Linked DNA regions of Homo sapiens: region 1 is linked to region 2. The links come from fine-mapping of genetic effects on plasma protein levels. Region 2 holds a variant in brackets. A gene starts in the other region. All regions are shown on their reverse strands.

Region 1 (2,916 bases), not on the chromosome of region 2:
CAGACACATTCACAAGAGTCCCCTTGTTTACAAACGAGGCACACACTGGTGCATGCACACAGATGTCCTCTCTTAAACAACCCCATGCTCAGAACATGACTGCTAGTCACTAAGCTCGATTTAGAGAATGTCAACATCAAATAATCTTATGGGGTCTTTTTGTTTGTTTGTTTTTTTGAGACGAAGTTTCATTCTTGTTTCCCGGGCTGGAGTGCAGTGGTGCGATCTTGGCTCACTGCAACCTCCGCCTTCTGGGTTCAAGCGAATCTCCTGCCTCAGCCTCCTGAGTAGCTGGGATTACAGGCACCCACCATGCCTGGCTAATTTTTGTATTTTTAGTAGAGAAGGGGTTTCACCATATTGGCCAGGCTGGTGTCGAACTCCTGACCTTAGGTGATCCACCCACCCTGGCTTCCCAAAGTGCTGGAATTACAGGTGTGAGCCACCGCGCCCAGTTGACTCTTGTGGTTTTTTATAAAGATCATCCATTCATGCATTTGCTCAACAAACATTTATGGGTGTCTATTGAGTTCCAGGCACAGGACTTGTCTCTGTGGGTACAGAATGAATGAGGCACAGCCCTTCCTAGGAGCACCTAGTCTCTTTAGGAGACATGGACTTACAATGAAACATACAATGTAAAAAAGAATGTTAGTTTATGAAATATACTTCTAAATGCAGCTTTTTAGAAACAGATTATTACAGATAAAAGAGTTCTTTGTGTGTGATTGCATGAGTGTGTACGCATCTGGAAATTTCCTTAGATACCTGTGTATATTTGTGTGTGTGTGCACACAGATGCCTGCGTATGTATGTGATATGCATGTGAGTACAAATGTTCATGTAGTTCGTATATGTATAGACGGGTCAGGAAATGCATGTGGTGTGGTTTTGTATCCAGGCATAAGTGTATACAACAGTCATACCCAGTGTAGGCTTAACACAGCCCTCCCCAAAGCTAGCTGCACAAGTTTCTAGTAGACTCTCCCTCTTTCTTTCTTTTAAAATTTTTTTTATCTTTTAATTTTTATTTTATTTTCTATTTTTAAGACGGTGTCACTCTGTTGCCCAGCCTGGAGTGTTATGGCATGATCTCAGCTCACTGAAGCCTTAACCTCCTGGGCTCAGGCAGTCCTCCTGCCTCAGCCTCCCAAGTAGCTGGGACTACAGGCGTGTGTTACCATGCCCAGTTAACCTCCCCACCCTTTCTTAATTTTAGCTGGGCAAGGGGGCAAGCCTCTAGCAGTAGCAAGAGGTGTTTCTTCACCTTACCTCCCATACCTCACCCCAAACGAATTACATAATCTCAAAAAAAATTTTTCTAAGAGAGTTTAGTGCCCACCCAAAAGTCTTGTCCAACTTCTTTGGCCAGAGGCCTAAACTCTCTTCATTTTCCCTTCCCAATCCCCTGCCCCAGCCAAACACTTTGCCCTCATTTGCGCACCGATGGCCAGAGGCCTCAACCTTGAGCCTTACCCCTTCAATGCTTCTGGATCCTGGATGGAGAGCCCTGCAGCTTCCAGAAAGGTGGGGACTCTGGTGGAGGCTGTCTGAACTGGGGCTTGGGTTAGACAGTGGTGCCCGGGGGAGGGCAAGGAGTTGGCCAGGCCTGCGACCAATCAGACTTCTCATTCCTTCTGATGTCCAGCTGTTTCCCCTCCTCTTTCCTCAGGGGGTCCCCTGCCCCATTCCTGTATTTGACAAAAGAGAATTCTCCCCCCACCTTCCGCTTCACCCCCCACCTCCAGCTCCTGCTCTCTCTCCTCTTACTCTGTCAGCTCCTTCTTTCTTTTCCTTGTCCACTCTCCTGATAAGGCCACATCTTTGAGGAACAGGGAGTGCCATCCCCTGCAAGGAAGGGGCCCCATCCCTCAGATTCTGAGTCCTCAGAGAAGGCTGGAGTCGGGGGATATGGAGAGATAGAGCTTGTCTTTGCAGCTTCTTTCTCCAGCCAGAGAGTGACAAGGCTTCAGCTTCATAGCCAGAATCCAAAGATAAAAATAGGTGGAAATGAGGCACTTCACCCTCACCTAGAGCGCCAGCACAGAGACCATAATTGAATAAAATCACCAGAGACAGGAGCTGCAGGCCTAGGTAGTTCAAAGAGAAGGTGTATGGGGGATGAGATCGGATTTGAAAGCCAACTTCAAGTTCACAGATGATGATCATGAGGATACGGGAAATTCTCTAAATCTGCTAGGAGGAAACCAAATGGAAATTGGGAGGTGGGCCCTAGAAAGGATCATAAACACCAGTAGACATTGTGTAGGGTCTCGGGGGCCTGGGAAGTATCCTCTCCCGCACCCTCAGAGATGTACAGTCGTCCCTCAGTAACCATGGGGGATTGGTTCTGCACGTCCAGTGGATACCAAATCCACATATGCTGAGGTCTTTTATATAAAATGGTGAATTTGCACATAACCTACGCACATCCTCCTGTGTACTTCAAATCATCTCTAGATTACCTATAACACCAAACACAATGCTTACACCTCACTCCATTCACATGGATTCCACATAGTACTGGCACACAGCAAATTCAAGTTTTCCTTTTTGGAACGTTGTGAATTTTTTTTTTTTCTGAATATTTTCAATCTGTGGTTGGTTGAATCCACGGATGTGGAACCCACAGATACAGAGGGCCAACGGCATTCATCTGGAAACACTCCCCTTTCCTTGGTGCCTCGAGCAGGCTGCCGAGCAAGTCCTTGCTGAAGGCAGAGGTGGGGTGGCTAAGGAGTCTTCCCCAGCTTCTGCCAGCCTGTGCCCTGGCGCCCACCCAGGTTTCTCAGTGACTCTCCTTGTTCCCTACTCCTTTCCACCAACCAGATACTGAATTCCAGCTGTGAGGCCCCCTAAAGATCTAGTCCAAGTCCTTGTGGTATAGATGAGGAGAGTGAGGCCCAAAGAGGTGAC
Region 2 (2,916 bases):
CCCCTCTCCAATGTGAGATTATGCCATCTAATTTAATCTTCTCCACAACAAACAAATCTATTCATAGATCTTAAGGTTATAGGAAAAATATTAAAAGAAGCTAGCAAATAGCCTGCAGGCAAGAGGTAGAATTCTCCATGCATCCATCATTCACAGCCAAGGAGTTAATTATTCTCTGAAAAGCAAAGAGGTTGAAATGATAAAAATGTAGGCTTTCCTTCTATTCCTGCTCAGCGTTCCTCAAATTTTCATGTTTAAGCCTCACTGTAAAAAGAAAAAAAAATTGACATGCAAAACCATGTACACTCTATTCAGGGAACAATTCAAGAAAATGTTTGAGGATCATTGAGCTACAAGTGATTTTTTTGCTCCCTGCAGAATTTTAGAATCTGACCCTGGGTAAGGAGGCTGCGTCGTGTCCCCCACCTCTGAGAACCTGAGAATGTTTAGCTGTGGTTTCTGCAGTTTTGCACATTCCCTAAAGAAGGTGTCTGGGCGAGTGCTCGGCGCTTATCTTCCTACTGTGTGCAGTCAGTTTCCAGCTCTCACCTCCCTCCTTCATCTCTCTTCAGCTGGCTGGCTTCTAAGATGCTTCTCCCTGCCTGGCCACAGTGCTTACCTGTTCTAGGATGAGAGAGGCCCAGCTGGGTTAGCGAACTGTTGCTAAAGAGCGTTATTTCATGGGCTTGACCCCAGCTTCCTATTGTAGCATTTCCTGTCTTGGGATTAGCTTGATTAGGCAAAGTGTGAAGCTCAGTGCTGCTTCAGTCTCACCTCCTACTTTGAGTAATTTGATAAGTACTCTGTGGTTCACAGGGTGCCATGTACTGCTGGCTTAAATGGAGCAGCCTACTTTATCAGACAAGAACCCTCAAATGGCAGTCCTCCAGCCCATAGGCTAATTGATATTCTTAACGAGGGAAGGCAAGCACCTCATGAAAGGTTTTGTTTGTGTTTTCTTTTTTCTTTTTATCTCTGTTTCTAGAGACAGCAACCTTATCAGTCCAGCAGATCTTAATAGACTAGAAAGAAGCCAGGAGAGTATTAAGGAACTCTTAACACAAGAGATATTTCTCTTTATGTAATCATTTTCCCAAAATATATCAGCATAACCGTCAGTATTTTTCTAAAGAACAATGGACCCCATGTCATGACCTGCTACTTTACTTTTTATGGAGGTATATATTTCAGTGGCCAATCTTGTAAAAGTGGTTATTCCTGAAAAGGGGTGCCACCTGCTGCTGGATATC[C/T]GTGTCTGTCAGGAAACATTACCATCTAGAAATGCTACTGGTATGTGTGTGCCAGCTCTTGGCTCACTGCTCATTTCCTGTTAAAAAGAACCTAATCTCAGGCAAAGCTAATCCTACAACAACAGTCAAATCCCTCCAGATTCAGATACGTTGAAAAAATACAAAATGCAGAATGGGCTTAATTTTGTACCTGTTCTAAAGGCAAGAAGGTGCATTTATGTCCAAAAGTTCTGCATTTGTTGTCCTTCATTCTCTGTCACATACTGCAATTAGCCTTCCATATGAAGAAATGTAAGTATCAGAAACACACAATCTACGAATATACGTGGGCTTCATTCTCAAATTGGAGACTTCCATTTCTATCACCGTTCTTTCTCCATTTGGTGGTATTCAGGATCATTAGAGAAGGTGCAAAGATTTAGCATAAATAGCATCAAGTCACCTAAGAGCATGTTTCTTTTTATAACTTCCTGGGCTGAGTTGAATGCTTAGCTAATTCAGTTCATCTTATTTCCTAAAATCTGAACTTAAGGCTATTTATTTTCCTCTAGGAACTTCTTTAGCTGCTTTCACAAGTTTGGATGTGCAGGGCTTTATTGTTTGGTTACTTACACGTGTGTTTTTTAGTCTCCAAACTGTGATTGGAGACTTTTTGTGATTGATAACTAGAGGTATGGCCCCGAAGTCAGAGAATATAGTACATGTGATGTTGACTTTTGGTATTTTATGAGACATCACGTATGGTAAGTTTTGGTGAGTTCAAAAAAAAAAAACTGTGTTTTTATTGACTGCAGATCTCTCCATTAGATCAAGCTATATTACTGCATTGTTCAGATCTGCCATATTCTTATATATTTCTTTTCAAATTAATTTATAAATTCTTGAGAGGTATACTCAGATTTTACCCCATGAAATTTATTTTGCCTTATAATGTATTTTCAATTTTTGTTTTACATATTTTGAGGCTATGTTGTTAAGAACACATTGGCTCTCAATTATTACATCTTCTGAAGAATTATTCCTTGTATCACTAAATAATAACTTTCTTTAGCCTTAATAATGCCTTTTCTGAAGTCTGTTTTGCTGGGCATTAATACTGTAATGCTGGCCAGGTGCAGTGGCTCATGCCTGTAATCCCAGCACTTTGGGAGGCTGAGGCAGGCAGATCACCTGAGGTCAGGAGTTTGAGACCAGGCTGGCCAACATGGTGAAACCCCATCTCTATTAAAAATACAAAACTTAGCTGGGCATGGTGGCAGGTGCCTGTAATCCTAGCTACTTGGGAGGCTGAGGCAGGAGAATCGCTTAAACCCAGGAGGTGGAGACTTCAGTGAGCCAAGATTGCACCACTGTACTCCAGCCTGGACGACTGTACCAAAAAATACTAACAATAATGATAAATAATAATAATATTGTAATGCTTTCTTGTGTTTAGTATTTCTCTGTTTTTTAAAAATACCACTTTCTTGTCAACACTTCTGCATTATTATGTTTTAGATGTTTCTTTTTTAAGCAGAATGGCTACTGAGGTCTTGGTGACATTACCTGCTATGACAACCCCAAATCTCAGTGGTTTAACACAACAAAGGTTTAGATATTATTCTTTAATCATTATGGCCTCTTTCATGCTATTCTTTTATTTTATTACTTTTATTGCTAATTTTTC

Which allele goes with the higher level. Positions count from the first base shown, and alleles are read on the strand shown. Strength reflects both the effect of a copy and how common the allele is.
With allele C in place of T in region 2, the plasma level of the protein whose gene starts at base 1,541 in region 1 is higher (weak association).

The links. A credible set is the group of variants that fine-mapping cannot tell apart. PIP is the posterior inclusion probability: the model's chance that the variant is causal. The UK Biobank Pharma Proteomics Project read protein levels with antibody pairs (Olink). The fine-mapping took linkage between variants from a reference panel, not from the people measured, so its PIPs are less certain.
Region 1: OPTC starts here. The variant in region 2 is the best candidate, but not a certain one, in a credible set for the plasma level of the OPTC protein (UK Biobank, PIP 0.76).

The regions. Positions count from the first base shown.
Region 1 is chr1:203,492,778-203,495,693 of GRCh38, reverse strand. It overlaps OPTC (opticin), which reads right to left and starts at 1,541. Exons shown (of 8, transcript NM_014359.4): 1 at 1,477-1,541. RefSeq lists a silencer at 1,820-2,048.
Region 2 is chr9:76,660,983-76,663,898 of GRCh38, reverse strand. The region is part of intron 9 of PRUNE2 (prune homolog 2 with BCH domain); the gene reads left to right. It overlaps LOC105376095 (a long non-coding RNA gene), which reads right to left. Exons shown (of 12, transcript XR_007061586.1): 12 at 1-264. Among named protein-coding and RNA genes, the nearest start is that of PCA3, 100 kb to the left of the region's middle. The variant C/T (reference allele first, on the strand shown) is at 1,251.